Regions from separate parts of the Homo sapiens genome. Here region 1 is linked to region 2. The links come from fine-mapping of genetic effects on gene expression. A gene starts in region 2. The other region holds a variant in brackets. All regions are shown on one strand. Distances are between the middles of the regions.

Region 1 (2,928 bases), 100 kb before region 2:
TGCTATTCTAACTGCTCTTCTTGCATTATAGCCTCAGTTTCATCCCTGAGAGACAGGTCCTATTTTCTCCATTAGCCAGGCAAGGAAACGGGCAGACAAAGCAGATTTTCTGAAGTTACACAGCTTAGAGGAGAGTGGTCCAAATCCCGTCTTCATCAGTTCCTGGCCATGTGGCTCTGGCCAACTGGCTTATTTGCTTTAAGGTTTGTTAGCTCTTCTACTAAACTGGAATAATAATGAATAATAATAACAATGATAATAGTTTCTAAATGACGAGGTCGTTGTGAGGATTAAACAAGCTATTATATTTATGGAATGCAGTGTTGCCTGCACAGTCAATACTCAAAATCTGCTAGCTATTATTTTAAAATTATGGTTATTATTACTATATTGACATGTATGTTAGGAAGCTGTTATTCTATCTCAGAGATAATGCTTTTAATATAAAATATAAATATAATTGTGTGTATATGGGATAGGTATAAATCTTAAGCTATTAATTCACTGTTATGCCTTTTTAAAGTGTGTAGATTATGTAGTCATAAGTTAATACCTATAGCTTTCATTCTTTTTCCAATGAAATAAAGCTGTTCATTAAGAGCGTCATGTGAACCAAAAATTTGGAATAAAATCATATTGAATTGTACCAGAGTAGGAACTCTCATAGAGTACTGGTGGGCATTTGAAGTTGCAAAAACCATGGAGAGGGAATAATTTGGCAAGATCTAGTAAGGAGGAGGCTGTGCATGCCTGTGACCTAGTAATTAATATCCTGGAGGGACTCACACATGTATACAAGGAGACTTGGGCAGGAATGTTGGTGGCAGAAGGATTTGAGATAGTAAAAAATGGAAACCAACTGAAGGTTCAGCAACTAGATAAAACAAATGAATTAGAGCTCTAAGTACTGGCAAGGTAATATCATAAAAGTAAAATATTGAATTAAAAGGAAATTACAGGAAAATATATGCAGAATAAAATCTGCAAACAGTATCATAAAACTGATCATGAACATATTCATATATTGCAAAAATATCATACAAGCTTGAAATAGTGAATACCAAATTCTTGAATTCAGAATGGCTGTTGTTTCTGGATAAGGAGGAACAAAGATGGGTTTGCTGAAAAGAAGGCAGTGCAATTCAACTGCATCTGGGATGTGATTTTTATGAACGTGTTGGGGCATGAATGACCAATGCCAAGATTTGACAAAGCTGGATGGTGGCTGCTTTTTTGTATGCTTGAAATGTTTCATAATTGTAAAAAAATCCCATTTTATTACTTGTTTTGCCTTCTCTCCTCTTTTTGTCTTCATCTGTTTCATAGTTTCAACAGACTTAGCACCTTATGTCTAGGTGTACGTTTTGAGGGGACAGCAATTTTTTGTGCTACAAACTTTCTGTAAGAGGTCTTGGACTTAGGGATTCCAGTTCTCAGTGTTAGACCTTGTTTTCTGCTGGGTTCAGATGAGAGGTCATACAGTGCAAGCTGGGGCCCAAGTTGAGTTAATTATTTA[A/C]TAAGGCTTCCACTTAGTCTGTGTAAACTCCACGAGCTCTCCTGATGGCCAACTCATTCACACTCCTTGGCCCACAGAGGGTTCAGAAGGGCCAGGAGGTGAGACAGTTGGTGAGAACAAACGGCATCCTTCCCTGCTGTTTATCAGTGTTTCTGCTGCTTGCTCAAGTAATCAACAGCATAGGTAGGGCTTAAAGAGGAAATCCGGTGCCTGCAGAATTATGACTGACCTATTGAGGAAAGGTTCAGAGAGGCTGGGGAGTTTGTGACCTTCCGGTTAAAGTGTGACTTCAACCAAGGCAGACCAGGAGGGTGGGTGAGGCATCCAGTTCATAGATGAGATCAGTGTCAACGGGTACAAATCCAGCAGGGTGACTCCATGCGTGTGTGTGTATATGTGAATAACACAAAGCATGTCATGAAATAGATGCATTAAATCTGAAGTATGTAATGTTGTATATAATGTCTTAAAAGTTCCCAATTCAGCACACCATGAAATGTCTAACCATGACAATTAAACAATGAAATGGCTCGACAGGAAGGGCTTTTGCATTCCTTACAGAACTTACATTCCAAAAAAGCCAGGTGGAGACATAAAACAATCCTTCCTCATAGATGGTTTGTGTTGTGTTGGTTTATTTTATTTTATTCTATTTTATTTTGATAAGAACATGTAATATGAGATCTACCCTCTTAACAGACTTGTAAGTGTACAGTAGAATGTTGTTATCTATGGCACAATGTTGTACATGGGTCTCTAGGACTTACTTATCTTGCATAACTGAAATTTTATATTTGTTGATTAGCAACTCCCATTTCCTCCTCCTTCCAAACCCTGTTAACCTACATTTTATTCTTCATTTTTATGAGTTTGACTGTTTAGCTAGCTCTTATAAGTGGAAACATGCAGTGTTTGTCCTTCTGTGACTGGCTTGTTTCACTTGATGTAATGTTTTCAAGGTTTATTCATGTTATCACATATTTCAGGATTTCCTTCTTTTTAAAGGCTGAATTATATTCCGTTGTATGTGTGTGCATGTCTATGGAATATAATTATACATGTACACACATACAATGGAATATATATATATATATATATGTATATATATCACATTTACTTTATCCATTTACCCTTTGATGGATATTTAGGTTGTTTCCACATCTTGGCAATTGTGAATAACATTGCTATGAACACAGTAGTGCACATACCTCTTCAAGATCCTGAATTGAATTCTTTTGGATAAATACTCATAAGTGGGATTGCTGGATCTTATTATGAAGCAAAATTAGACAAGTGGGACTACATCAAACTAAAAATCTTCTGCACATCAAAGGAAACAATAATAGAGTGAAAGGCAACCTACAGAATGGGAGAAAATATTTGCAAATTACATATCCAATAAGAGTTAATTT
Region 2 (2,928 bases):
AGGTCTCATTCCCCTCATTTAACCAAAGAGGAAATTGGGACTTTGAGAAAGGAGGAGGCTTGTCAGGGGCAGTTCTCAAGCTGTGGCCCATGAACCTCGGGGGTCCCTGAGACCTTTTCAGGGATCCATGAGGGCCTCCCTTTCCCAACTACATGATTTGTATGAGGCTGGGGTTTTTCATACCTACAACTAGGCAACTAAACAGTGTATTTGGAGAGACTGAATGCAGAAGTAGACATGAGAATGTAACCTTCCATTAAGCCTGATATTAAAGAGATCAGTGAAAATGTAAAATGATGACAATCTTCTCAATTTATTTTTGTCTTAGAAAATATAGTTATTTTTAAAGTGTGATTTTTATTACCATGGAATGGAGTTTTATATTATTTTAAATGAATTAATAAATACATTTTAAAAATTCTGCTTTAATTTCTAATACAGCAAATATCGATAAATAACCCACATAAACAAAAGTTCTTTGGAGTCCTCAGTAATTTCCAGGAGTATAAAGAGGTCCTAAGGCAAAAAAAAAAAAAAAAATTACTAATTGGGAGACACAAGTGTCAGAATATACAGTAATTGTTCAGTAATATTGCTGTAAATTAATTAATAGGATTGCCTAGTCACAACAGCAAAGGCATGGAATCAACCCAGATGCCCATCAGTGGTGGATAGGATAAAGAAAATGTGGTCCATATACACCATGGAATACTATGCAGCCATAAAAAAGAACAAAATCATGTCCTTTGCAGCAACATGGATGCAGCTGGACATCATTATCCTAAGTGAATTAACACAGAAACAGAAAACCAACCACTCATGTTCCCACTTATGAGTGACAGCTAAACACTGGGTACTCGTGGACATAAAGGTGGGAACAATAAATGCTACGGATTCCAAAAACGGGGAAGGAGGCAGGGGAAAGGGGTTGAAAAATTACCTGTGGGGTACTATGTTCACTACTTGGGCAACGGGATCATTAGAAACCCAAACCTTAGCACCATGCAGTATATCCATGTAATAAACCGGCACACATACCCCCCGAATTTAAATTAAAAAAAAATTACATTAAAAGATAGGAGTACCTCCTTTACACCACCTGAATTATCATGGCACATAAATCTCACACCCTATTTGCCAAGGCCATTCGTTCCTAGCTGTTTTACAGGTAGGTTAGCTTTCTCAATGCAAGTCTGTGGGACGGATGGAGAAAAATTCCCCGAGCCCTTTGATCCTGCCCCAGCTGGGCCCCGCCGCGCTGAGCCTTGGGCGCGCCCCCTGCTGCCCGCGGCCGGAGCCGTTCGCCACACCCCCGTGTTTATGTCGGTCCACGGGGGTTGCCTGTCCCTTTAATTGGCATGTACCAAGTCCTTCCAGGTCACATTTCCTCCCTACGTCCCAGCCGTTTGGACTCACTGGCCAAAAGTCCAAGAGGACGGAATGTGGAGACAGTGTTGTATTTTTGCGGGGAGTTCTAGGCCGACCGGGAGCGAGAGAACGCTCGGGGGCGAAGCGCGCCATTGCGGCCCTCCCCGCCGCCTGCGGTAGTCCAGTCCCAAGATGGCGGCCACCATGAAGAAGGCGGTGAGTGGGGAGCTCGGGGCTCTGGATGCTCGGGCGGCGCCGGATCTCGGCCGCTGGGGCCCGGGCGCGGGATGCTGGGGGTGCGCAGCTCCGAAGCCCGGCGTGGGACCCGAGGCCGAGGCCGAGGCCCTGAGAGCGGTCCCGCGGCAAGGCCTGCTCGCGCCTGGCGCCCTGAGCGTTTTCCTAGGCACCTGGCCAGCCGAGGCGGGGCGCCGGGGCTGGGGCCGGGAGCCTCGAAGGACGCAGGTCCGCCTCCCGCGATGCCGAGGGTGCCCCCGGGGAGTCTGAGGAACCTGCAGCCCCGGCCTCGCCCCTGAGGTGTGGGAAGCCGAAGGTCCCGTTGAGTGTGGTTGGCCTTGACTCGGGCGTTGCACCGGCATGATCGCATTAGCCTCACTGGTTATGGGTAGCTGCTGCTGGGAGCGTGGTTACGGGTGAGGAAACTGAGGCCCAGAGATGGGGAGTCACCTGCCCGAGGTTACGCAGCTCATAACGGGGACAGCAGGTTCCTGCATCCCCAGATTAGCAGGCCCCAGAGACCCTGTGTCCAACCTGGAGCTGCCCATTTCCACGCTTGATGCCCCTGAGTCCTTCAGGCTAAAACCAGTATTTATTGAGAATGGAAGATGTGCCGGGCCCAGCAGCCGGCCGTTTATCTGTTATCCTCCCCGCAACTCAGCAAGTGCAATGGGTTCCTCTCCACTTTGCAGGTAGAGAAACTTAGACACAGAGCAGTTAGAGGCCCTAAAGTGACTCAGCTAGTAAGAAGCAGAGCTGGAGTTCAAACTCAGGTTTGTTTTTGTTTTTCTCAAAGCACGCCTGTGTAACCACTAAGCCGGCTAAACTTCCATGTGGGGTTTTTAATCCCGTGAGCCTTCCCAGATGTGTAAAGATAGTCAGATAGAAGAAAAAGAAAATTGGAGAGGGGGAAGGAGATAACGGCTGATAATTTGGGGAGCTTTACAGTGTGCTAGGTACAGCTGTAAGTTGTTTTGCGTGTATTGTTTATTTTATGTTCTTTGAGGGAGATACTGTTTTTATCCTTATTTAACAATGAGAAAACAGGCGCGGAGGCAAAGCTAGCATTTAAACACAGGCATTCTGACTCCGGAGTCTGTGTTTTAAACTGCTATAGGGGGTCTTTGATGAGAATCTCTTGGCTGGAGGGATTTGCGTTCATTCCACTTTTAAGACCACATTAGAACTTCTTTGCTTTGCCCCTATCCAGTACCACATAGTCTATGCCATCTGTGCCTGGTGTAGGGTGACCCATTGCCCCCTTTTATATGAAATTGAGGGACTGCCAAAAATGGGAAAGCCCCAGCCAACTCAGGATGTGTTGCT

Direction of the effects. Alleles are on the strand shown, and positions count from the first base shown. SD is a standard deviation of normalised expression in the study named.
In carriers of allele C in region 1, the expression in pancreas of the gene that starts at base 1,547 in region 2 tends to be higher than with A alone (moderate effect, 0.43 SD a copy in GTEx).

What was found. PIP is the estimated chance that this variant, and not a neighbour inherited with it, causes the effect.
Region 1: its variant is the best candidate, but not a certain one, in a credible set for the expression of PFDN4 in pancreas (GTEx, PIP 0.56).

The regions. Positions count from the first base shown.
Region 1 is chr20:54,106,183-54,109,110 of GRCh38, forward strand. No RefSeq gene overlaps it. Among named protein-coding and RNA genes, the nearest start is that of BCAS1, 37 kb to the left of the region's middle. The variant A/C (reference allele first, on the strand shown) is at 1,517.
Region 2 is chr20:54,206,541-54,209,468 of GRCh38, forward strand. PFDN4 (prefoldin subunit 4) reads left to right here and starts at 1,547. Exons shown (of 4, transcript NM_002623.4): 1 at 1,547-1,584. The coding sequence starts at 1,561. It overlaps LOC124904937 (a long non-coding RNA gene), which reads right to left and starts at 1,501. Exons shown (of 2, transcript XR_007067669.1): 1 at 1,417-1,501; 2 at 406-516. RefSeq lists enhancers at 944-1,761, 1,302-1,621, 1,762-2,578 and a silencer at 1,612-1,881.